Linked DNA regions of Homo sapiens. The protein of the gene in region 1 purifies or fractionates together with the protein of each later gene. This does not show direct contact. Each region holds a gene or a part of one and is shown in the gene's direction. Other genes may lie near its edges. The genes, in order: KNDC1, ANAPC4, PPP2R5A, SIL1, USP47, PPP2R5E and AHCYL2.

Region 1 (4,018 bases):
GTCCAGGTCTGAGCACCAGGGTGCAGCGGGATCAGGCTCCTGGAGCAGAGTCTGCCTGCCACTTCCGCCTCCTTCCAAGACAGGGACTGGGGCGCTGCAGGCCCTGTGGGGCCCACAGAGAGAGAGCTCAGGGACAGCTGGCTGAGGCCACCCTCTGTGAGACTCCTCCTCTCCAGCTCCAGCCCACTCCACCTTGGCTTGCTGCCCAAGCTTCCAAACACCCAAGGATGGGGGAGGCTGCACCTGACTGCTGACTCGGTGGACCAGGGTGGGCCCCAGGGTGGGCATTTTCAATAAGGTGGGGCTGCCTGGCTGGACGCAGGGAGTCTGCCCAGCACCTGCCCCACTCCCAGCCTCCGGCTTCAGTGCCCACCTGGCTCCCGGGGAGCTGAGCCCCTGAACTCCCTGCCAGGCCAGAGTGACAGCCCGGGTGACCGACCAGGGGACAGAGTGCTGGGAATTCACGTCCCTGAACACACTGCACCCTCCCACTCTGCGGTCAAAAGCCCTGCTGCTCCTTCAAGCCAGGAGCATGGATTAAGTACCTACTGTGTGCCTGGCCAGCCACACGGACGGGGAGCTGACAGCCGGGCCCTGAAGCCGCCCTCTCTCCTGTGGGAGTTCTGGGGGTGGCCGGGGAAGGTGAGATTCTCCTCCACCCTCCCTGCCTCTTGGCCGAGCTTGGGGCTATCCTGGCTCTTCTGACCGCGGCACTACCGTGGGCCGGGGTCACCCTGGCGCTGAAGAAAGCCCCGGGGGGCCTTTGGGGCAGGAAGAGGTCAAGAGCCCCAGGACCCCCCAGGGTCCCCCAGGACCGGGGAGGGTCGGGTGCCCAGTGGGTCTCTCCGATGCCTCCAGGTGGGGATGAGGCAGCGTTATTGCCCCACCCCCAACATCCCCGGGCCTCCGAAAGACCCTCGCTCAGGAGAGACCCCGGCCCAGCGACCGCCCCGCCCCCCACCCCGGGCCCCGCCCCCCACCCCGGGCCCCGCCCGGCCCTGCCCAACGCCGCTGCAGAGGCCACCCCGGGACTGCGGCAGCCCCGCCCGGCAGCAGCGGGGGTGGGACGGGGGCGGCGGGAGCCGGCGAGGGGGTCTGCCCGTCCGAGCTTTCCTGGGCGCCGGCTCCGCCCCTCGACCCTTGGGGCCCAGGTGGGGCGCAGACCCCGTGGCTCCCCGCGGAGGCCACACGCCTGGCTCCGCCCCCGGTGCCTCCCCCAGGAAGGAGCGACGTTCCCTAGGCGCCGGGTCCGGACAGCGCCGCGCAGCCCCCGCGCACCCCGCGCCCCCCGCGCCCCCCGGGCCCGCCCCGTATCCCTGACCGCGTCCCCTGGAGACACTGCGGCAGCGGCGGGCGGGCGGGGGCGGGCGAGGGCCGGGCGCGTCTCCATGGAGCCAGGGCGCGCGTAGCCGAGCCCAGCCCAGCCCAGCCGGAGGCCCCGGGGGCGGTGCGCGGCGCGGCCGCAGGATGCAGGCCATGGACCCGGCCGCGGCGGATCTTTACGAGGAGGACGGCAAAGACCTGGACTTCTACGACTTCGAGCCGCTGCCCACCCTCCCCGAGGACGAGGTGAGCCCCCGGCCCCACTGGGGGGCCCCTTCCGCCGCCGAGGGGTCCGCGGAGAGCGCCCGGGGGGAGGACCCGGGAGGGGCTGTGAGCTCCCGCCTCCCCAGGCGCCCTCCATGGCCGAGGGGTTCCCACCGCCGTTCTCAGCCCCCGCGTTAGGATTTTCACCCGGAGGGGACAGCACCCCCGAATGCGCACGGGACGGCGGCGGGTGGGCAGCCCCTGCAGAAGTTGGTGCGCGGTAGCTCCTGGTGGAAACCCTGGCGGGACAGTGTGGGGGCAGCAAGGAGGACGGAGGGGGGTCTGCTTACTCCCTGCCGGGCCCCAGGAGGCCAGCGGGGTGCAGAGCAGCAGAGTCCAATCAGGCGCCGCTCAGGAGCTGGGGGATGAGGTCCCCGGAGCTGAGGTTCAGGAGCGGGGGGTGGGGGGAGCGCTGGATGACTGCCCCCCGAGACTGAGAGCTGCTTCCTGCTCTCTGGTTTTCCGGGCCTTCACCCAAGACCCCCCTACCCCGCAAGGTGCAGAGGGGCTCTGCCTGCCATCTGCATACCCTGGCGCTTCTGCTCATGGACCGCCCACCCTACAGCACCGGCTGCCCAGACGCCACCTTGGCTGGGTCTGACCCTGTAGCTCAGCTCTGGCTTGGCTGGGATGGAGTGGACAAGCCAGGCCCGGAAGCATGAGAGGTGGCCCCCAGGGGATACAGCAGCTCCCAGAGGGACCCTCACCCTCCAGGGATCCGAGATCTGCCAAACCTCCAACAGGCAAGAGCCCAGACGCTGGGCGCCTGCGTCTCCGGGTGACAGCGTCGTCACCTGCAGCCATTAGTGGGATGTTGTGGCGCCCTCTCTTTAAAGCCGGCCAAGTAAGCCTGGAGCAGGGAATCCCGGCTGCAGCAGCCGCGGGCCTGACCCCCTCGCAGTCCCCACCTGCTGCCCCAGGGGAGTGGGCTCTGAAGGGACCGGGAGTTTCTGCTGTGGAAGCACCGTCCTTCTGGGAAGGTTCAGCCCCAGGAGGCCCTCGGCCCAGCCACCTAGAAACAGCTGAGGCTGTGCGGGGGTTGGCGATGCCCCCGCCCCCACCATGGCCTGGATTCGGTGCAGTTGAAGGCTGCAGAGAGGAGCAGCCAGGGGAGGCAATAAAGCTTCCAAGATCACCTCGGCTCTGACCGAGAGGGAGGGGCAGCCCGCAGCCTTCAGAAACGCCCCAGGACACATCCCAGGGTATCTGTTAGGAGGCGGCCCTGAGGACGCAGCTCTTCCCACAGCTCCTTCGTGCATCAGAGGCCTGAGCCTTGAGGGCCTCCCCGCTCCGCACACGGAGGCAGCAGCCGGTGCCACGCACACAACACGCCGCGCCAGGCGCGAGCCCACTTGGAGCCACAGGCTGTCTTTCTGCACACTCCCCACTCCCGCTCCCCACCCCCACGCACACACCAGTGTCCTCGGGCCGGCCGGACAGCTCCCGGCCGGCACAGTACTGGGGTGGGTGGCTCCATCCTGTGACGTCCACCAAGGCCTCCAGGTGAACTGTCATCCCACCGAGTTTGCAGCGTGCAGTGGGAACGTTCAGGTGGGCCCTTCGCAGACACTCCTGGAAAGCATCGGGTGGTCCCTGGCCCAACCCTGTGCCCAGTACTGAGCCCAACACACCCCATGTCTCAGAATTCCCCTGGCGTTCAGACTCTGCTTCCCACACGTGTTTGGCTTGGAAGGTTCTGAAATCTCCATCGGGGCACCTGACTTGCATGGGAAAACCGTCCTGGGTGAGGTGAGGGCACGGTGAGGTTGCATCATCATCCCAGAATGCCGGAAGGCCAAGGGTGCAGGGCAGCTGCCGGGAAAGCACGGTGGCGCCAGGCCCAGGACATATGCAGGCTTCATAAGATGTAGGAACTCACTCATTCTACAGCTAATTATAATGGCTGGCTCCATGATGGGGTCAAGAAATAGACCCCTATGGACACCCACCGGAGCCCCTGGAATGTCCCTCCCTTGACATGGTCCCAAAGAAAATCCAAATGGCTGCTGAACATGTGAAAAGATGTTTGCTCATTGCAATCAGGAAAATGCAAAATACACCCCCACGAATGCCTTCCCAAGACCGCCAGGCTGGCAAGAACTGAAGAGCGGACAGCGGCTTGTGCTGGCAAGGACGGCGCAGCAGCTCTCCCTCGCGCCAGTGGGAGGACAAATGGAGCAGCCTCTTTGGAAAACAGCCCAGCATTCGCTGGTGAAGTAGAAGGCACCAGTGCCCTGTGTCCCAGCAACTTCACTATGGTGTGGGCCCCAGAGACACGTGGCCGTGCGTGTGTGAGAACACTCTCAGCTGGAACCTACCAGAGCATCAGCAAGTGGGCCAGCAGGTCCTGGAGGAAGTGACCAGGTTGGATCCCAGTACAGGCAAAGAACCACCAGTACACGATAGACAGGGAGATGTTCTGTGGGGGTGA
Region 2 (3,500 bases), on another chromosome or scaffold:
TTTCTTTTTTGGGGAAATATGCTAATTTTCTTACCATTAACTTTTCCTTTCTAATTAAGTTATACTAAGGTAATATCAAATGAATTTGTAAATCCTGAATATTAATTGCCAGCTTTCCTAAGGGAAGCCTGAAAGAATTGGATGACAAGGGTTTGACCTGGGGTTTGAAATTCACTGTAGATAAACCAGAGTGATAAATCCATCATCAGATAATGAAGGATTACAAATCGTTATGTGAATATGTAGAATGTTAGAGGGTCAGAGCATATCATGTAATTCCTATTCCAGCCCGGTTATCTGCTGTGTGTATTCCCAACATACTTTCTACTAACAGTTTAGAAGTGTTATGTGGCGATTCCAGGGTCTCTCAAGACAGCTCCTTTTTATTAAAGTAGGAAAAAATACTTGCTAAATCACCACTTTTTTACTTGCTTACTCATTTATTTCCAACCTTATTTGGAGTTAGAATTGAGAAGGAAAAGGGGGTAAATAAGACTATTTCAAAAGGCATGGTGTAGTCTCAAATACCTGTTGGATTATCAAATCCACAAGTGTGTATAAGTCATAGAACCAATAACTAAATCACATAGTAGGCCATGCATAGTGGTTCATGCCTATAATCCTAGCACTTTGGGAGGCTGAGGCAGGAGGAAGGAGTTTCAGACCAGTCTGGGCAACATAGTGAGACCCCCATCTCTAAAAAAAAAAATGTATATATTAGCTGGGTGTGGTGGCTTGCACCTGTAGTCCCAGCTACTCAGGAGGCTGGGGCAGGATGATGGCTTTAGCTCAGAAGGTGAAGGCTGCAGTGAACCATGATCACACCACTGCACTCCGGCCTGGGTGAGACCCTGTCTCATAAATAAAAGATAGTGCTACTCTTAGTAGTCATATGTTTGGTGTGAGTTCTTAAATGAGAGTTAAGAAATCATAAATTCTCAGTATCTGAGTACATATGAATGCATTTCATATGCTAAGAAAAGTGTTTATTAATATCATTTCTCTAAATGTAACGTGTGCAGGCTGATGTTTTTTTTCCCCTAAAATAACAGAAATTCCTACTTTTCAATTTCCTATTTGGGACTGTTAAACTGACTACAACTGTATAGTATTTGTGTCATCTATTTACTTGATAATGTTGTAAAACTGGGTATCTTTTTTAAAAATTAGCATTTTTAATGGCAAGAGAAGTAAAATCTTTGGTGTTTTTATAATGCTTTTATTTTTTCCTTTTTAGTGTTCTCACATCATTTTATAATGCTGAGGATGAATCAAATCTTCTCTTACCTAAACTACCTACACTGCCAAAAAAGTATGTATCACTGGTTTCTTTGAAATTAATCTTGCAGATTTCTCTTTCTTCTGCTTTTAACACTGTGACAATTTTCTCATGCGTTTTAAAATATGTATTTTTACTAAGAGTATTTTTTACCTTAATCTCTGTTTCCTTCTAGCTATAGCAACACCTCAAAAATATTTAGGTAAGATACGCCTTTTCTTGTTTTCAAGTAAGATAATCTGCTATTATTTGGAAGACAGAATTGAAAGATGACCCAATTTACTTCTATATTTTAGTGAAGAAAATTCTGATGAAATTATTAAGCTCTTGGGAGACGTCAGGTAAATCTTACAGATAAATAAGTCTAATTTCTTAAAGTTATTTCATATTTGAGGCAGTTTTCAGAAGCTTTAAGAGCAAATCCTTTATTTGCCATTTTATTTCATTGTTTTTTGTTTTTGTTTTCTTTTTGAGATGGAGTCTCTGTCACCCAGGCTGGAGTGCAGTGTCGTGATATTGGCTCACTACAACCTCTACTTCCTGGGCACAAGCGATTCTCCTGTCTCAGCCTCCTCCGAGTAGCTGGGACTACAGGCACGCGCCACCACACCCAGCTAATTTTTTTTTTTTTTTTTTGAGACGGAGTCTCGCTCTGTTGCCAGGCTGGAGTACAGTGGCGTTATCTCGGCTCACTGCAACCTCCGCCTTCCTGGTTCAAGTGATTCTTCTGCCTCAGCCTCCCGAGTAGCTGGGACTACAGGCACCCGCCACCAGGCCTGTCTAATTTTTTTATTTTTAGTAGGGACGGGGTTTCACCATGTTGGCCAGGATGGTCTCGATCTCTTGACCTCGTGATCCACCCGCCTTAGCCTCCAAAAGCGCTGGGATTACAGGCGTGAGCCACCGCGCCTGGCCTAATTTTTGTATTTTTAGTAGAGACGGGGTTTCACCATGTTGGCCAGGCTGGTCTCAGACTCCCAACCTCAGATGATCCACCCGCCTTGGCCTCCCAAAGTGTTGGGATTACAGGCATGAGCCACCGCACCTGGCCTTATCGTTGACATTAATACCTTCAAACAATATATAGACCTTAATATCTATTATTGTTTTTATTGTGTGGCCTTTCGTTTTATGAAGTTTTAATAATAATATGATGTACATATGTTTATTTTAATAAGTTAAAGGATATAAGTACTAGAGTTTCTAAAATTTTAAGTATTCATGTTTTTTAAGCCCATTTAATATATTTAGCATCATAACCATGATAAAACTGATGGCACTTTGTATTAGTTGGTAAAAGGATTGTTTTGTTATTGAGAGTGTATAAATATAGTTGTTATTAAAATAATGTATTCTTATTTTACTGTAAGCTGATTTTTTTTTAGGCTAGAGGAAATTTGTGTTCTTTGAAAAAAGGAATGAGCCTGATGTGACTGAATATTGAGTGTTAGTGGATTTGATGTCTCACTTCCCTCTGCAGGGGAGCTTTAGCATGTAGATTATATGAAAGCAGTAATAATTTATATCTCGCTTTAACAATGCAATCATCTGTGTTGTTGATTGGTTCTCAGCTTGTTGCATTGTTTTTAATTAGGCTTAATATTCTCGTCCTTGGAGGAAGCTCTGGATTTATTGAGCTTTATGCTTATGGAATGTTTAAAATTGCTCGAGTCACAGGGGTAAGATTTCTTTAACATTTTCTCTTCCTAAATTATTTCTCTTAGAATATACTAGGTACTTATGGAAAAAGAATAAAACACTAGGTTTTTTTTCAGTTTCGATTTTTGGAATTATTCTTAAATGTTCAGAGACTAATTTCCTTACTAAGATAAAATAATTGTGATATGTCTATAAAGATTGGGAGCTATTTGTGGAATTAGTCAAGTTTTTTTTTCTTTTTCTTTAACAGAAAGATTAGTATGATACACTTGATTATGATTTGATGTTTTTCTAGTGTGAGATGTAAAAGAGCTTCAATTTGTGATTGGAATGTAAATCTTCAGAAGCATTCTTAAGTCCAGTACTGACTGTACTATAGTTGCTACGTCTCAGTCTTCTCCATAGCTTTTTCATCAGACTCTTACACTCGCAAAAGGGGTAGAAAATATTGTAGGCTCTGTGGAATATGTTGGTTCTGCAGCACTTGATTTGAGACTTGGGTAGGGGTGAGGGAACCAGGTTATTTTTGTGGCCTTGTAACTAGAAAGGTCCATGCAGGCAG
Region 3 (3,500 bases), on another chromosome or scaffold:
AAATTATAAGTAGCTCAGAGCTTTTGTTAGTTTATTACTCAAGCCTGTAATCCCAGCACTTTGGGAGGCTGAGGCAGGCAGATCACCTGAGATCAGGAGTTCAAGACCAGCCTGGCCAACATGATGAAACCCCATCCCTACTAAAAATACAAAAATTAGCCGGGCGTGATGGCGGGCACCTGTAATCCCAGCTACTTGGGAGACTGAGGCAGAATTGCTTGAGGCAGGAGAATGGCTTGAACCCAGGAGGGCAGAGGTTGCAGTGAGCCGAGATCACAGCACTGCACTCCAGCCTGGGCAACAGAGTGAGACTCCGTCTAAAAAGAAAAAAGTGCAGAGTGGAAGAATTAACTAAATATTCATTACAGCTAAGTTTCCATGTAAAGAGGAAAAAAATGAAGAGTCGGCATGACTTTCAAAACTTTTATTTTTTTGGCAGTGTAAACCTTTCCTTCCACTCAAAGCTGCATTTTTATAAAACAAGCAAAACAAAACAAAACACCGTTCTTATTCCAAGAAAATCTAACTTGAGCCCCAAAATAATTTTTTTATTTTTCTTTTTTATTTTATTTTATATTTTATTTTATTATTTTATTTTTATTTTATTTTATATTTTATTTATTTTTTTGAGACAGAGACTCACTCTGTTGCCCAGGCTGGAGTGCAGTCAGTGGCACCATCTCGGCTCACTGCAACCTCCACCTCCTGGGTTCACGCAATTCTTGTTCCTTAGCCTCCTGAGTAGCTGAGATAACAGGCGCCCGATACCACGCCCGGCTAGGTTTTTTTTTGTATTTTTAGTAGAGATGGAGTTTCATCATGTTGCCCAGGCTGGTCTCAAACTCCTAAGATCAGGCAGTGTGCCTTCCTTGGCCTTCCAAAGTGCTAGGATTACAGTTGTAAGCCACTGCACCTGGCCCACATTGACATCTTTTTGGGGGCCACTAGTCAACCCAGTGTTCGTTATTCAATACTGCCCGACATTGAAATTTGTGTATGATGAGGGTAAGGAACTACATTTGGGTTTGTTTGTTTGTGTTTTGGGTTTTTTTTTTTTTCAGACAGGATCTCACCACATCACCCAGGATGGAGTGCAGTAGTACGATTGTGGCTGACGGCAGCCCTGACCTCCCAGGCTCAGGTGATCCTCCTGCCTTAGCCTCCCAAGTAGCTGGGACTACAGGCATGCACCACCATGCCCAGCTAATTTTTTTGTATTTTTGGTAAAGATGAGATGGGGTTTCACCATGATGCCCAGGCTGGTATTGATCTCTTGGGCCCAAGCCTGCCTTGGCCTCCCAAAGTGCTGGGATTAAAGGCCTGAGCCACCATGCCTGGCCTGCATTCATTTTCAATTACGCATATCAAATGATCACAAAATTTATTGGCTTAAAATAGCAAGCATTTATGGCCTTTATCAAAGCTGCAGCTGCTTCCATGTAGCTGCTGTGGTCAAAAAGAAGCCAAGAGTGACAGTTTTCCTTGATGGTCATAGTTCTGTTTGCTGTAACTGATCTGCAAGATTTTGGGAAAATACCATTCCATTGGGAGGAAAAATGACAAGCATTTGTTGCCTTAGTTGCTGTGAATCCAGAATCTGGTCATGGCTTAGGTGGGCCCTCTGCTCAGGGTCTCTTACAAAGCTGCAGTTGGAGTGTTGGCCAGAAGTTGAGTCTCATATAAAGTGTCAGATGGGGAAGGATCTGCTTCTAAGTTCACATGTATGTTGGCAGAATTCAGTTTGTCAAGTTATGTTGGACTGAGAGCCTCAGTTCCTGGCTGGCTGTTGGCCAGAGCCCACCCTCAGATCCTTGTCACCCAGGCTTCTCCAGCATGGCACCTTACTTCATCAAAGCCAAGACAGCGAGTCTACTAGTAAGACAGAAGTCACAATCTTTTGTATCTTACTCATGAAGTGACATTCTTTCACTTTTGCCACAGTCTGTTCGTTAGAAGCAAGTCACTAGGACAGCTCACACTTAAGGAGAGGGGATTACACAAGGGTGTGAGGACAGTTAACAAGCTCATGAGATCATCATAGAAGTCTGCCAACCAAAGGAGCCTGCTACATTTTTCCTTTCTAAATAGTGAGCTACCTGTCCCAGTACCACCACTGTTTCCCATGGAACTGAAAGGCCACCTTTGTCATATATTAAAATCCATATATACATGAGTATATCTAGATACTCATATATATCTTTTCTCTCCATTTCTTTGCCAATATAATCTTGTTTTAGTTGCTGATATCCATAATACAGGTTCTGTTCCATTAACTCCCCCCACCAAAAAAACAATTCTTATTTGCTTATATTTATGGATTTTAGAATAAATGTTTCTAGTTCCAAAAAATAATTCAATTGGCATTTGATTGAAATTATATTAAATTTACTTATAAATTAAGTACAGGAAAAATATCTCTGCACAATATTGAACCACCTCACTTATTTACAGTCATGTGCTGCATAATGACATTTCGTTTAATAACAGGCTACGGGCCGGGCGCTGTGGCTCAAGCCTGTAATCCTAGCACTTTGAGAGGCCGAGGCGGGTAGATCACGAGGTCAGGAGATCGAGACCATCCTGGCTAACACAGTGAAACCCCGTCTCTACTAAAAATACAAAAAATTAGCTGAGCCTGGTGGCGGGCGCCTGTAGTCCCAGCTACTCAGGAGGCTGAGGCAGGAGAATAGCATGAACCCGGGAGGCAGAGGTTGCAGTGAGCCGAGATCGTGCCACTGCACTCCAGCCTGGGTGACAGAGCGAGACTCTGTCTCAAAAATAAATAAATAAATAAAAATAACAGGCTACATATAAAATGTCAGTCCCAGACAGGCGTGGTGGCTCAGGACTGTAATCCCAGCTACTTGGGAGGCTGGGGTAGGGGGATCTCTTGAGCCTAGGGGGTTGCAGTGAACTGTGATCACACCAGTGCACCCCAGCCTGGCCGACAATGCAAGTCTGGACTGTCTCTTAAAAAATAAAAATGGAACTGGGCATGGTTGCTCATGTCTGTAATCCCAGCACTTTGGGAGGCCAAGGTAGGAGGATTGGTTGAAGCCAGGACTTTAAGACCAGCCTGGGCAACAGAGCAAGACCTCGTTTCTACAAAAAGTAAAAAATTAAAATTAGCCAGATGTGGTGGCATACACCCGTAGTCCCAGCTACTTGGGAGGCTGAGGCAGGAGGATCATTTAAGCCTAGGAGTTCAAGGTTACAATAAGCCTAGGAGTTCAAGGTTACAATGACCTCTGATCATGTCACTACACTCCAGCCTAGGCAACAGAGTGAGGCCTCATCAAAAAGAGAGAGAAATGTTGAGAGAGAGAGAGAGAGAGAGAAATGTGATTCCAAGAGAAAGAAAAATGGTGATCCCATAAGATTATAATGCTATATTTTTACTGTACCTTTCGTGTTTAGATACACAAATACTATTGTTACAACTGCCTACAGTGCCTACGGTATTCAGTACAAGAACATCCTGTACAGGTTTGTAGCCTAGG
Region 4 (3,500 bases), on another chromosome or scaffold:
TCCTGGCCTCGAGATCTGCCGGCCTCGGCCTTCCAAAGTGCTGGGATTACAGGCGTGAGCCACTGTGCCTGGCCCTTTTTAAGAGGGTCTCACTCTGTTGCCCACGCTGGAGTATAGTGGTGTGATCATAGCTCATTGCAACCTCCAACTCCTGGGCTCAAGTGATCCTCCCACCTCAGCCTCCCAAGTAGCTAGGACCATGGGTGTGCACCACCATGCCTGGCTAATTTAATTTTTTTTTTTTTTTTTAAAGAGACAGGGTCTTGCTTGCAACATTGCCCAGGCTGATCTTAAATTCCTGGCCTCAAGTGATGCCCTACCTTGGCCTTCTAGAGCACTGGGATTACAAGTGTGAGCCACCATGCCCAGCTATACCAGTGGGCTTTTAAATGGACATTTCTTTACCTCTGGGGATAGTCTCATTTTTGTGAGGCTCCCAAGGGGAAAGCAGCCATCTGACCAAACTAGAAAACTAGCAGGCTTCAGCCCAGTGGAATAACATAAAGTAGGACAATCGATACAGACAACATTGATTGGCCATGCTTTGAGTGCTGTGGATAGTGTGTATTGGAAGCTTAAGGGGCCAGCTCATAAGTAAGTTGTAAGTAAGTATTTAAGGATGCTTTTTTTTTTTTTTTTTTTTTTTTGAGACAGAGTCTCACTGTCACCCAGGTGTGAGTGTGATCTTGGCTCACTGCAACCTCTGCCTCCCAGGTTCAAGTGATTCTTGTGCCTCAGCCTCCTAAGCAGCTGGGATTACAGGTGCTTGCCACCATGGCCGGCTAATTTTTGTATTTGCAGTAGAGATGGGGTTTTACCATGTTGGCCAGGCTGGTCTTGAACTCCTGACATCAGGTAATCTGCTCACCCCGGTCTCCCAAAGTGCTGGGATTACAGGTGTGAGCCACTGTCTCTGGCCTAAGGTTGCTTCTTGTTTTTCCCCACACCCCATCTCATACTCATGGGGAGTTGGGTTTGACTGTATTCTTGAAGTTAAGTCTCCATCCTTGGACCCAGCTGCTAAAGTCTAAAATGATTGTGTTTTGGGCTGGAAGATATTATAGAGATCTTTATTTCCTTGCAAACATCAGGGCTGGCTGTTTGTGGTACTGTGGATGAGTGAAGAGTCAGGAGATACACTTCTAGTTCTGTTACTGCCCAATGCCTCCATTTTGCATTTGATAGGTTTTTATTTTTCTGACGACAAAAACTGAGCCCCAGAGAAGTGAAGTGGGCCACGTAATGGTAGGATCTTTTTTAGGCCACCCACATAATAGTGGGACTCTAGTGTTAGAGCTGGGACACAGGCTAGGGGTCTTACAAAGGGTGGCCATAGAAGTTGTTAGAATTGTTTAAAGCATTGTAAAGATGCAGGATGCTTTTGCAGTTAAAAGTCTCCTGGGAAGGAGGAGGCCCTGTCTCCACTTACTGCCTTGTACATGATCTTATACCCTCATGGTTGAAGATTTTTGCTGTCGTGCTGTTTTTCCTCCTACTCATGTCGAAATGTGTTTCTCTTGCTCTTACCTCAGAGGAAATGAATTTGAAGCCTTCCTCCGTGTTAGAAACAAATAGTGCTCAGGCCAGACTTGTGTGTTTCTGTAAAGAATGAGGCCAGATGTAACAGTGGACCTTATCTGGTGATCCAAGCAAACCTTCAAGACATCTCTAAGAGAAAGAGAGAAGGAATGAGTGTATTTCAGAGTGGTTTAAACACACTTTGGAGTCAGACTCACTTGTATTTACGTTCTGATATCTACTTACTAGTTGTCAGATTGTAAGTTACTTATTTTCTCTAAGCCTTAGTTTTATGATCTGTTGAATGGGAATAGTAATATGTATTTTTATAGCTATCTTAAGAATTCAGAGAATAGATATGGTGCTTCCTCTGGCACAATGTAAAACAGCAGTCCCCAACCTTTTTGGCACTAGGGACTAGTTTCATGGAAGACTATTTTTCCATGGACTGGGGGATGTGGGGGATGGTTTGGGGATGATTCAAGCACATTATATTTATTGTGTACTTTATTTCTGTTATTATTATTTTTGAGACAGAGTCTCACTCCATCACCCAGGCTGGAGTTCAGTGGCACAGTCTTGGCTCACTGCAACCTCTGCTTCCCAGGTTCAAGCAATTCTCCTGCCTCAGCTTCCTGAGTAGCTGAGATTACAGATGTGTACCACCACACCCGCTAATTTTTGTATTTTTAGTAGAGATGAGGTTTCACCATGTTGACCAGGCTGGTCTTGAACTCCTGACCTCAGGTGATCCACCCGCCTGGACCTCCCAAAATGCTGGGATTATGGGCATCATGCCCAACCTATTTCTATTATTATTACATTATAGTATGTAATGAAATATACAACTCACCATAATGTAGACTTAGTGGGAGCCCTGAGCTTGTTTTCCTGCAACTAGACGGTCCCATCTGGGGGTGATGGGAGACAGTGACAGATCATCAGGCATTAGATTCTCATAAGGAGTGTTCAACCTAGATCCCTTGCATGCACAGTTCACAATAGAGTTTGTGCTCCTATGAGAATCTAATGCTGCCACTGATCTGACAGGAGGCGGTGCTCAGGCGTTAATGCAAGCGTTGGGGAGCAGCTGTAAATACAGATGAAGCTTTGCTCACTCACTTGCTGCTCACCTCCTTGGATGGGTTTCTGATAGGCTACAGACCAGTATCGGGGGTTTGGGACCCCTGATGTAAATGCTCTGTGTTGTCATCATTATTGACAACAATAGTTTCCAGTTTCTGAGCCACGTCGTAGTTTCAGGATAGGTTATGCTGACCAAGCAAGTTTTATCTTAACCATCACCTCATTGTTGTCTTAGTTGGTTTGTATTACATATTATTTATACCAATAGTTATAGGTATTTCATGCTGAATAACTAAAAGTTGTGAGTAGCAAGGAACTTTGCTGCTTCTCTGCCATCTCCTTCCTTACTCAGCTTAGTGCTTATCTTTCTCAGGTTCTCTCTTGTCAGGTGCTCAAGCCAGCAGGCCTTGTTTCGGGGGCAGTGTCTGATGAGGGGATTTTATTGGGGTAGGGCTGGCTAGTCCAGAGCCTGCCTGGTCCCTCAGATAGTATGTTCTCCTTATCTCTTGCTTTCTGCTCTTCAGCCAGACATGAAGCAATTAGCTCATCAAGGGAATGTTGACTTTTGTCACTGCTTTCCTCTGATTTGTATGCTCATTTCTGGTCCTTGTGCAAAGTCACGGAGGCACAGTCACATACACTGACCCAGATTTTGTGCTCAAGTTGACTGTCTCTCTCTTTGAGATGTACAACTGGTTCCATGTAGCAAGGGAGTGAGGAAAAAGCCCCTGGAGCCAATCCCATTATTTTGATCTCAAGTTGAGTTTTTAAAAAAATCCAAGCACTATGACTATAGACCATGCCTCACTTCTCTGTATGAAACAAATAAGGTAAAAAAAACTCACTATTTGGAGGGAAGGCCAATCTGAATTGGTAAACAATAGGAATTAGTACAT
Region 5 (3,500 bases), on another chromosome or scaffold:
CTGGAAAAAGATATTTGTAAGCATAATACCAGAAGCCAAAAAAAGAAACTATAGACCACGTAAAAACCTATCCTCTGCATAGCCAAAGAAAAAGGTATTTAAAAAGCAACTCATAAACAAAGCTAAAAGACAATAAACTAGGAGGAAATTATTTGAAGCAGTTATTAAACATGCTGTCCATAATTTATAAGGAGCTACTACCTTAATAAGAAAAAGACGGAACAAATCTAATTTTAAGAAAGACAGCATGAATAGGCAATTTATAGAAAAAGAAATACAAATTAAAGAATAACGTTATTTTTCACTCTTAAATTGGTGAAGATTTAGAAAATCAAAAAATACCTAGAGTTCTCAAGGTTTAGGGGATACAGACAATATATACCTTTGATAAGTGTATAAATTGATATGATTTTTTTCAAGTTCAGTTGGCATCATTTGTCAGTATTTCGGATTTGCAATTAAACATCTGGGAATTCGATCTGTAGAAGTATTTGCAGGTTGGGTGCCATGGCTCACTCCTGTAATCCCAGCACTTTGGGAGGTTGAGGTGGGCAGATCACTTGAGTTCAGGAGTTCGAGACCAGCCTGGCCAACATGGTGAAACCCTGTGTCTACTAAAAATACAAAAATTAGCCAAGTGTGGTGGTGCATGCCTGTAATTTTAGCTACTCAGGAGGCTGAAGCTGGAGAACTGCTTGAACCCAGGAGGTGGAGGTTGCAGTGAACCAAGATTGCACCACTGCACTCCAGTCTAGGTGATGGAGTGAGACTCTGTCTCAAGAAAAAAGAATTTATTTATTTATGTATTTATTTTTGAGACGGAGTTTCACTCTTATTGCCCTGGCTGGAATGCAGTGGTGCGATCTTGGCTCACTGCAGCCTCCGCCTCCCGGGTTCAAGTGATTCTCCTGGTTCAGCCTCCCGAGTAGCTGGGACTACAAGCACATGCCACCACGCCCGGCTAATTCTTTGTATTTTTAGTTGAGACGGGGTTTCACCATGTGCGAGGATATTCATGGAAGTATACAGTAGAGCTTTGTAACTTGGAAAAACTGAAAACAGTCTCAGTGTCCATCAGTAGGAGATAAAATGTATATTGTTCGGTTATTGAAGAGAATGTGGTCACTTTGTATCCTATTCCTCTAGGAACAGAATTATTATATAGAGATATTAATCTGATTTTACATGTTTTAGAAACGTGGGTGTAGTTTGTGTATGCATAGGAAAAGGTCTGGAAGGAATATACTAACTTGGTATTTCTGGGACATGGTATTTGCAGGGTGGCCGCTTTCTGCTTTTTCTTAATTTTTTTACATGAAACATTTTTTAAACTGAGCTATTTCTGTTTGTGGGGTAAAAGGAAAATAACTTTTCTAAGCAAGTTAATTTTTTAAATGAACTCAAATAAAATGTTTTATTTTACAGCTTAGTGAAATCAGTGGGATTCCTTTGGATGATATTGAATTTGCTAAGGTAAAGCCCTGAGAATGTTGCATCTGTGTATTGTGCATGATAAACACAGCTAGTGGCATGATTTATTCATTCATTCTTTTTCTTTTTAGGGTAGAGGAACATTTCCCTGTGATATTTCTGTCCTTGATATTCATCAGGATTTAGACTGGAATCCTAAAGTTTCTACCCTGAATGTCTGGCCTCTTTATATCTGTGATGATGGTGCGGTCATATTTTATAGGTAACATTCACAATGTTTTTGTTGCTGTTAGTAATACATTTTTGGCGTGCATACATATCTTATTTTCCATAAATATCTTTACTGTTTTTATGATATGGAGCGGCACTAACCGGTAGAAATACAGTGACAGCCAAACATGATTATAATTTGAAGTTTTCTAGTAGCCACATTAAAAACAATAAAAAGAAACAGGTGAAATTAATTTTAAAAATATTGTAAACCCAATATATCCAAAATATGATCATTACATGTCATCAGTATAAAAAATCATTTGTATTTTGCATTTTTTTATTGTACTGAGTCTTAGAAATATTGTATGTCTGTTATATTTCCAGCACATCTCAATTTGAACCAGGCATATTTCACAAGCTCAATAGCCACATGTGGCTAATGGCTGTTGTATTGGACAGCACAGATGTAGAGGAAAAAGAATAGTCATTGGAGCCTCACAAATCTGGGTTCAAAACTAGCTTTCTGATTTACCTAGCTCCTCATCTATAAAATTGCAACAATGATGTCTACCTTGCAGGATTTTATGAGAATTAGAGCTGTTGCATGTAAAATAACTGGCACAGTGCCTATTATAGATGTTCAATAATGATAGCTGTTACTACTGCTAATAACATGGAAGTTATTCTCCGCCACTTTTAGAAGTAAGCAATATGTTCCTGTGATTAACACCTTAGAAATCTGGGACATCTCAGTATATAAAATAATATTACTTCACCAGTAACAGATTTCATTATCTTGCTGAGGAGCATCATAGCATTCAAGCATACATTAATAGAGGTGGAGGGCTCTACTGGACTAATATGTGATTAATATTTTATATGTAGGGATAAAACAGAAGAATTAATGGAATTGACAGATGAGCAAAGAAATGAACTGATGAAAAAAGAAAGCAGTCGACTCCAGAAGACTGGACATCGTGTAACATACTCACCTCGTAAAGAGAAAGCACTAAAAATATATCTGGATGGAGCACCAAATAAAGATCTGACTCAAGACTGACTCTGATAGTGTAGCATTTTCCCTGGGGGAGTTTTGGTTTTAATTAGATGGTTCACTACCACTGGGTAGTGCCATTTTGGCCGGACATGGTTGGGGTAACCCAGTGACACCAGCACTGATTGGACTGCCCTACACCAATCAGAAGCTCAGTGCCCAATGGGCCACTGTTTTGACTCGGAATCATGTTGTGCACTATAGTCAAATGTACTGTAAAGTGAAAAGGGATGTGCAAAAAAATAAAAAAAAACAACAAAAAAAGCTAACCTTCTATTAGAAAAGGGGACAGGGGAATGAGTAAACTTCTTTTATTGCGGACAAATGTGCACATAGCCGCTAGTAAAACTAGCCTCAAACAGGATGCTCATAGCTTAATAATAAAAGCTGTGCAAAGGCCATGAATGAATGAATTTTCTGTTTATTTCACTGATGCACACATTACCTCATTGACAATTCAGAAGTAAATCCAACGTGTGTTGACTCTTGGAAAGCAGCAAAAACAGGAGCTGAAGAAAAGAAATTCTTGGAACCAGCCGTAACCCAGTAAGGAATTGTGAAGTTGTGTTTTTATTTTGTTTCATTTTTTGCAGAGTATTAAGAACATTATTCTGGAACATCAGAACGTTTCCCTTAGACCGATCCCAGCAGGTGGCAGCTCAGATTGCTGCAGTGTTGTAATTATAACTGATTGTACTTAAGTTATGGATGTAGAGAATATGTTTCATTCATTTATTCAGCATGTAAATAAAATTGATCCTGTTGAGTTATCATAATTGCAGTTCAACTATCTGCCATGATT
Region 6 (3,500 bases), on another chromosome or scaffold:
CTCACCGCAACCTCCGCCTCCCAGGTTCAAGCGGTTCTCCCTTCTCAGCCTCTTGAGTAGCTGAGATTACAGGTGCATGCCACTGCGCCTGGCTAATTTTTGTATTTTTAGTAGACACAGGGTTTCACCATGTTGGCCAGGCTAGTCTCGAACTCCTGACCTCAAGTGATCCACCCACCTCGGCCTCCCAAAGTGCTGGGATTACAGGTGTGAGCCACCGGGCCCAGCCCTTTTTTTTTTTTTTTTTAAAGGACGGAATCTCACTCTGTCACTCAGGCTGGATGGAGTGCAATGGCGGGATCCTGGCCCACTGCAACCTCCACCTCCCAGGTTCAAGCGATTCTTTCACCTCAGCCTCCCGGGTAGCTGAGATTACAAGCACCTGCCATCATGCCCGGCTAATTTTTGTAATTTTGTAGAGACTGAATTTCACCATGTTGTCCAGGTTGGTCTTGAACTCCTGACCTCAAGTGATCCACCCATCTCAGCCTCCCAAAGTGCTGGGATTACAGGCGTGAGCCATTGCACCTGGCCAAGATAAGACTTTTCTTAACTGATTTTATTTTCTTTAGCACATATTCCCATTTTCATGAATATTGTATATGGGAATTTTAGAATTTGTATAACTCACATGTATGCTTCCACCTTGGGAATGTATGGGTTTATGATACTTCTTTCTCTTCAGTAGGGATATGTCCTCAGCACCAACTACTCCTCCATCAGTGGATAAAGTAGACGGATTTTCTCGGAAGTCCGTCAGAAAAGCCAGACAGAAGAGGTCGCAAAGTTCCTCACAGTTTAGGTCTCAAGGCAAGCCTATTGAGTTAACACCTCTGCCGCTGCTAAAAGGTAAGGCTCATGACCAGGTGATGCATTCTTTTTCAATTGATCTTTCTACATCTATATATAATTTCCTTTTTGTAGAGTTTTATATGTGTTGCAAATTGAAGGGATGGGATACTTCACATACATTGAAGTTACTAATGTGTGACCAAATATACCCACTCTCCTTTTTAAAGGCTCAATTTAGTCTGTCTTTGGGCAAGTTAAAAGAAACATTATCAGGAGAATATCTCACATTGATGAGTAGGTAAACTAAGTACTAGAGAAACTTTAAGATGTCTGGGTTTGTGTTTTTCATTTTTTCTTCTGTTGACGTTTAGGGATACATTATATACAATGACAACTACAGATTATGGTCTTAGGAAGTAGACCCTAGTAGAGGAGATGGTACCATTCATTAATTTACATATAGAAAATGGTATTTGGAAGAATTCGTTTTTAAAAATCAAGAAAAAAATGGTCCATTTATAGTTGTTTACATGCACTCTTGTTTTCACATAGTACAAGTAGAAAAGATATACCTTTCTATGTACAAGTATGATGATCATACTTGTTTAGTATGATCTTTTCTTTGAAATTTGTTAATTTTTTAATTTTAATTTTTATCTTTTGAGATAGAGTCTCCCTCTGTTGCTCAGGCTGGTTCACAGCAACCTCCACCTCCTGGGTTCAAGTGATTTTCCTGCCTCAGCTTCCCGAGTAGCTGGGAGCACAGGTGCCCGCCACCATGCCCAGCTAATTTTTGTATTTTTAATAGAGACAGGGTTTCACCATGTTGGTCAGGCTGGTCTTGAACTCCTGACCCCAAGTGATCTGCCCACCTTGACCTCCCAAAGTGCTGGGATTACAGGTGTGAGCCACCGTGCCTGGCCTGAAATTTGTTAAAAACAAGTTTTTTGGTTTTTTAAATTTTCTTTTGAGACAATCTCATGCTGTCACTCTGGCTAGAGTTCAGTGGGGACAGAGTGAAAGTGCAGGTTGAGGCCGGGCGTGGTGGCTCACGCCTGTAATCCCAGCACTTTGGGAGCCCGAGGCAGGCAGATCACGAGGTCAGGAGTTTGAGACCAGCCTGGCCAACATGGTGAAACCCTGTCTCTTCTAAAAATACAAAAATTAGGCGCGGTGGTGGCACCTGTAATCCCAGCTACTCGGGAAGCCGAGGCAGGAGAATTGCTTGAACCGGGAGGCAGAGGTTGAAGTGAGCCCAGATCGTGCCATTGCATTCTAGCCTGGGTGACAGAGCAAGACTCTGTCTCGGGGGAAAAAAAAAAAAGAAAGTGCAGGTTGGGGCTCACTGTGGCCTCTATTTCCTAGGCTCAAGTGATCCTCCCTTTCCCGAGTAGCCGGGATCAACTTCCCGAGTAGCTGGGACTACAGAAGCATGCCATCACGCCCAGCTAATTTTTCCATTTTTTTGTAGAGATGGAGTTTTGCCATGTTGCACAGGCTGGTCTCGAATTGCCATGGTGTTCCCATGCCAGGATTTAGGCGTGAGCCACCATGCCCGGCCCAACACGTTTTTAATATGAAGAATTTTTTCTAAATTAGGCATTTCAACTTTTGTTTGGGTATGTGGTTACTTTTTGTCCCTTTTAATTTTCATCATGTTTGCTTCATGTTTATGAACAGGTGTTGTTTGAAAAATATCAGAACATAGCTTTTATAGTGTGGAAACTATCAGAATTTACCTTTGAGGTGGATGTTTATGTGCTGAATACTGAAGAATGGGAGAAAGGGGATATGAACAACACAATGAGCTTTAGTGTGGCTTGGAGGAAACCAGGCAACCTGGTTTGCTAGTTCATTATTGCAGACTTATTTCTGTAACAGTTTGTGAAATCAGAAGGTATTATAAGAAAAACTGGAATGTAACCGGAAAAGATCCTCAAAATTTAGCTTAGGATATTTCAAGCTTCTATTTTTTCCATATGAATACTTTTTTTAAAAAAGAGAGAGAGATTCATAAATAAGATTCCAATGTTTATACAAAATTTTTGGAAACTGAATACTGATTACTGTAAAGATGATATATCTACCAGTCAGTAAAGATGAGCTCCTGTGAGCTTTGGGGGAGAAAATTTTGACTAGAGATTTTGCTGGTAAAAATGAAAATAGTCATTATGAGGCTTTGGAAAGAAAATGTAGGAAACACTGTAGATTGAACTATGCTTGAAATACAAAGTTGGGAGACACTGGTTTTTAGTAATCTATTTAATCTGAAGTAGATATGTAATGGGTGTTAACTTCTGTATCTGTAAAGGACTTCATTCTGAGGAAGCCAGTTAAATTTTTTTTTTTAGAATTAGAAGGAATTTAAAAACTTACACTAATTTCTTGGATCTTATGGTAAACAATTAAATTAGGACTTCACTGACCACTCATAGTCAGGGTATTGGTTTTGTGGGTAGTGAAAGAAGCATGCATGAGAAGAATTTGGACACATGCTTTAATGTATTTTTTCTTTAATGCTTTCATGTCTTTTTTCTCATTTTAAAAAATTATGGTAAAATATACATAACATGAAATTTACCATCTTAACCATGTTTAAATGTGCATTAAGTGCCTTGACATTGTCATGCAACTGTCCCTACCATCCATCTCCAGAACCTTTTCATCTTCCCCAACTGAAGCTCTGTACCTGTTAAACACTGACTCCC
Region 7 (3,500 bases), on another chromosome or scaffold:
AAATAATTTAGAGAGGTACAACTGAGGCAGATGGGAAGAGAACAATCTTGGCAGTTGCCCTGATCCACTGCCCTGCTGTCATGTTTAGGTGGTAGACACAATTAGAGGAGCTGAAATTCCATTCACCCAACAAGAGGTTTAGTAAACTTGATCAGATTTCTATGGAATTTGTAGGAGCTTTTTATAGTCTGAATGACCTATGGCCTGCGATTTGGTGAGAGCAGAGCAGAAAGCGGCAGTGGATTGACGTTTCTTCTGTAACAGTTCCCAACTCTAAAATTACTTTGATTAAATTAGATGATTATTTGTATGGGTTTCAGTCTCCCTTTTCCCCAGCTGTATCGTGCAACAGTTCAGTTAGCTATTTCCCTCTTGGACGCTTGCACTAAAAGCTGGTGATTTTATTTTCTTTTTTTTTTTCAAGGGTCTATCAGTAGAAATCTATTGGTTTGGGGCACCTAGTTCTTAGCTTAGAACCTATATAAAGGAAGGGTATTTGAACTGCTGATTGAGTTTCTCTGAGTATAGGACTTTAGCCTTTCTGAATGTTGCAAACCTGAGGCTAAAACTAGCTTCATCTTCTCTGCACACACTTACATTCTACAGTGCTCCAAGGTGAAACTTCATCTATTGACTACCTTTTCTTGGAAACTCTTCTCTTGGCTTCAGTGTCACTTATAATTGCTACCATTTACTGAATACTTACTCCGTGTCAGGAATCTCTGTCTTAGTATTTAATCCTCATGACAACTTTATCAGATGTGTAGTACTATCTTTATATTATGGATAAGAAAATATAGGCTCAAAGAGAGTAATTAACTTGTCCAAGGCTTTGTCAATGAAATGCTGGCCATAGCAATATTGGGCAGCTTTGCCTCTGTGCCAACACCCGTGCTGCTCTGACCAGACTCCCACTGAAGTCTGCTTAAGCTGCTGCTAAGACCACTTTGGATCTCACAATCTAGCCTCTTTCAAGGGGAGGCCTAAACACCATGCCTCACATCCCTGTTTGTTTCAGTCACTACCCGCCATCCGCCATCCATTATCTTCCCAATACTAATTCCTTTACCACTCTCTTCATCCTTCAGCTGATTCAGTCCCTCAAACTGTTCCACCATGTTCTTTACAATATCCCCCTCCTTGATCAGCAGATTCACATGTAGTATCAGTCTCTAGCAGCAAGATCAAGTTATAAGGGCAACAGTGGCAAGTGTTAGCACTTAGTATCCAGAACTGTGATGGTGCAAACCAAGCTGCAGCATCTCCTGCTTGGCATTAGCAATCACATCTTTGCCAACCCAGTTCTGTAATTTTGAGTGTTGTTTTAGCTGTGTAGCACTTAAGTTCTTCACTGAAAAAGTGACCTCATATCCTTTCTGTAAATTCTTTTTCTGTTTAATTCAGCCAGTGTTGACTTCTGCTGCTTGTAGAACTTGGAGTGATGTACGGGTTGAACCTAACCATCTACCTTCTTAGTTGCTGGCACTCATGGAGCTGAGAGTTGCTAGAGAAAATCAGCAAATTAGACAGATCAGTGTCATTAAAAATTTATAATCATCTATTTCATATGCATAATCAGCATTACCTAGCAATGTTATACATTTCTCTAGTTCACTTTCCAGCTCACTGCGAATTATTTCTTCATATTGTCTCTTTCTCTTTTCTTTTTTACTGAGACAAGGTCTCCCTCTCTCACCCAGGCTGGAGTGCAGTGGTACAGTCACAGCTCACTGTAGCCTCAAACTCCCTGGTTCAAGCAATCCTCCTGTCTCAGCCTCCTGAGTAGCCAGAACTACAAGTGTGCTACCACGCCTGGCTATTTTTTTATTTTTTTGTAGAGACGGTATCTTGCCATGTTGCAGGTCTCCAATTCTCGGGCTCAAGTGATCCTCCTGTCTCACCCTTCCAAAGTGCTGGGATTATAGGCATTAGCCACTGTGCCTGGCCTACTGTCTCTATTTCTTTTTCTCTTTTTTTGAGATGGAATCTTGCTCTGTCCCCAGGCTGGAGTGCAGTGGCGCGATCTCCGCTCACTGCAACCTCCGCCTCCCGGGTTCAAGCGATTCTCCTGCCTCAGCCTCATGAGTAGCTGGGACTACAGGCACGCACTACCACGCCCAGCTAATTTTTGTATTGTTAGTAGAGATGGCGTTTCACCGTGTTCGCCAGAATGGCTCAATCTCCTGACCTCGTGATCCGCCCTCCTCAGCCTCCCAAAGTGCTGAGATTATGGGCATGAGCCACCGTGCCCAGCTCTTATTTCTAATCTCTCATATTTTCTTCTTTTTTAACCAGTCATAGGCTTTATGCCTCATTATAAAAATGGAAGCTGCTGAATGGGAATTCCTTCATTCTTTTACCTCCCAAGTCTACAAACCTATGTGCATCTGGGACTCATCTTTTTCTCCTTCATTCTGTCAAGACCAATCCCTTCACAGGTGCTGTAATCATTCTTTTCTCCCCCTCCCCCCTTCCTCCTCCTTTCTTTTTCTATCTTTCTTCTCTCTCTTTCTCTTTGTTTTCATTCATTTTTCTTCAAGAGATGAAGTCTCACTCTGTAGCCCAGGCAGGAGTGCAGTGGTGTGGTCATAGCTCATTGCACCCTCAACCTCCTGAGCTCAATAGAACCTCCCTTCTCAGCCTCCCGAGTAGCTGGGACTATAGGTGCATGCCACCATACCTGGCTAATTTTTTTATGACTTTCTTGTAGAGATGGGGTCTCTTTTTTCCCCCTAGATGGAGCCTTACTCTGTCACCCAGGCTGGACTGCAGTGGCACTATCTCGGCTCACTGCAACCTCCGCCTCGTGAGTTCAAGCAATTCTGCTGCCTCGGCCTCTCAAGTAGCTGGGATTACAGGCATCCGCCACTGTGCCTGGCTAATTTTTGTATTTTTAGTAGAGACGGGGTTTCACCAGGTTGGCCAGGCTGGTCTGGAACTCCTGACCTTGTGATCTGCCCACTTTGGCCTCTCAAAGTGCTGGGATTACAGGCGCGAGCCCACACCTGGCCAAGATGGGGTCTCTTGCTATGTTGCCTAGGCTGGTCTTGAACTCCCAGCTTCAAGTGATCCTTCCTCCTTGGCCTTTGAAAGTACTGGGATTATAAGCATGAGCCGCTGCACCCAGCCACATTTTAAAAACTTTTTGTAGAGATGGTGTCTCACTTTGTTGCCCAGGCTGGCCTCGAATTCCTCGCTTCAAGCAGTCCTTCTGCCTCACCCTCCCAAAGTGCTGGGATTACAGGTGTGAGCCACTGTGCTTGGCCTCTCCTGTCTTAAAGAATTTCTTCCTTTGGTTTATTTCATCTTTCTACTAGGTCTTTTCCTTCAGAATTCACACTTGCCCTATTGTCTCCCATTTTGAAAACCCTGTCCTTTGACCTGCATATTTTCTGTTGCTGTCATGTTTTTCTATTCTCTTTCACAGGCATGCTTCTTAAAGGAGTTTTCAGTACATGCTATATGTGCTTTTTTCCTCTCATGAATTCCTTAACTCACTC

What was found.
Region 2: the proteins of KNDC1 (region 1) and ANAPC4 purify together in Homo sapiens (affinity purification with mass spectrometry; one large-scale study listed by BioGRID and IntAct). This does not show direct contact.
Region 3: the proteins of KNDC1 (region 1) and PPP2R5A purify together in Homo sapiens (affinity purification with mass spectrometry; one large-scale study listed by BioGRID and IntAct). This does not show direct contact.
Region 4: the proteins of KNDC1 (region 1) and SIL1 purify together in Homo sapiens (affinity purification with mass spectrometry; one large-scale study listed by BioGRID and IntAct). This does not show direct contact.
Region 5: the proteins of KNDC1 (region 1) and USP47 purify together in Homo sapiens (affinity purification with mass spectrometry; one large-scale study listed by BioGRID and IntAct). This does not show direct contact.
Region 6: the proteins of KNDC1 (region 1) and PPP2R5E purify together in Homo sapiens (affinity purification with mass spectrometry; one large-scale study listed by BioGRID and IntAct). This does not show direct contact.
Region 7: the proteins of KNDC1 (region 1) and AHCYL2 purify together in Homo sapiens (affinity purification with mass spectrometry; one large-scale study listed by BioGRID and IntAct). This does not show direct contact.

What each region holds. Positions count from the first base shown.
Region 1 is NC_000010.11:133,159,001-133,163,018, forward strand, and holds the start of KNDC1 (kinase non-catalytic C-lobe domain-containing protein 1), read left to right. Parts: upstream 1-1,218; 5' UTR 1,219-1,467; coding exon 1,468-1,569; intron 1,570-4,018. UniProt on the Homo sapiens protein: RAS-Guanine nucleotide exchange factor (GEF) that controls the negative regulation of neuronal dendrite growth by mediating a signaling pathway linking RAS and MAP2. May be involved in cellular senescence.
Region 2 is NC_000004.12:25,387,263-25,390,762, forward strand, and holds part of ANAPC4 (anaphase-promoting complex subunit 4), read left to right. Parts: intron 1-1,237; coding exon 1,238-1,312; intron 1,313-1,454; coding exon 1,455-1,481; intron 1,482-1,575; coding exon 1,576-1,620; intron 1,621-2,873; coding exon 2,874-2,958; intron 2,959-3,500. UniProt on the Homo sapiens protein: Component of the anaphase promoting complex/cyclosome (APC/C), a cell cycle-regulated E3 ubiquitin ligase that controls progression through mitosis and the G1 phase of the cell cycle.
Region 3 is NC_000001.11:212,351,410-212,354,909, forward strand, and holds part of PPP2R5A (serine/threonine-protein phosphatase 2A 56 kDa regulatory subunit alpha isoform), read left to right. Parts: intron 1-1,408; exon of another isoform or gene 1,409-1,541; intron 1,542-3,500. UniProt on the Homo sapiens protein: The B regulatory subunit might modulate substrate selectivity and catalytic activity, and might also direct the localization of the catalytic enzyme to a particular subcellular compartment.
Region 4 is NC_000005.10:139,188,369-139,191,868, reverse strand, and holds part of SIL1 (nucleotide exchange factor SIL1 precursor), read left to right. Parts: intron 1-3,500.
Region 5 is NC_000011.10:11,953,472-11,956,971, forward strand, and holds part of USP47 (ubiquitin carboxyl-terminal hydrolase 47), read left to right. Parts: intron 1-1,425; coding exon 1,426-1,473; intron 1,474-1,562; coding exon 1,563-1,693; intron 1,694-2,529; coding exon 2,530-2,704; 3' UTR 2,705-3,500. UniProt on the Homo sapiens protein: Ubiquitin-specific protease that specifically deubiquitinates monoubiquitinated DNA polymerase beta (POLB), stabilizing POLB thereby playing a role in base-excision repair (BER). Acts as a regulator of cell growth and genome integrity.
Region 6 is NC_000014.9:63,536,878-63,540,377, reverse strand, and holds part of PPP2R5E (serine/threonine-protein phosphatase 2A 56 kDa regulatory subunit epsilon isoform), read left to right. Parts: intron 1-684; exon of another isoform or gene 685-685; 5' UTR 686-692; coding exon 693-849; intron 850-3,500. UniProt on the Homo sapiens protein: The B regulatory subunit might modulate substrate selectivity and catalytic activity, and might also direct the localization of the catalytic enzyme to a particular subcellular compartment.
Region 7 is NC_000007.14:129,231,530-129,235,029, forward strand, and holds part of AHCYL2 (adenosylhomocysteinase 3), read left to right. Parts: intron 1-3,500. UniProt on the Homo sapiens protein: May regulate the electrogenic sodium/bicarbonate cotransporter SLC4A4 activity and Mg(2+)-sensitivity. On the contrary of its homolog AHCYL1, does not regulate ITPR1 sensitivity to inositol 1,4,5-trisphosphate.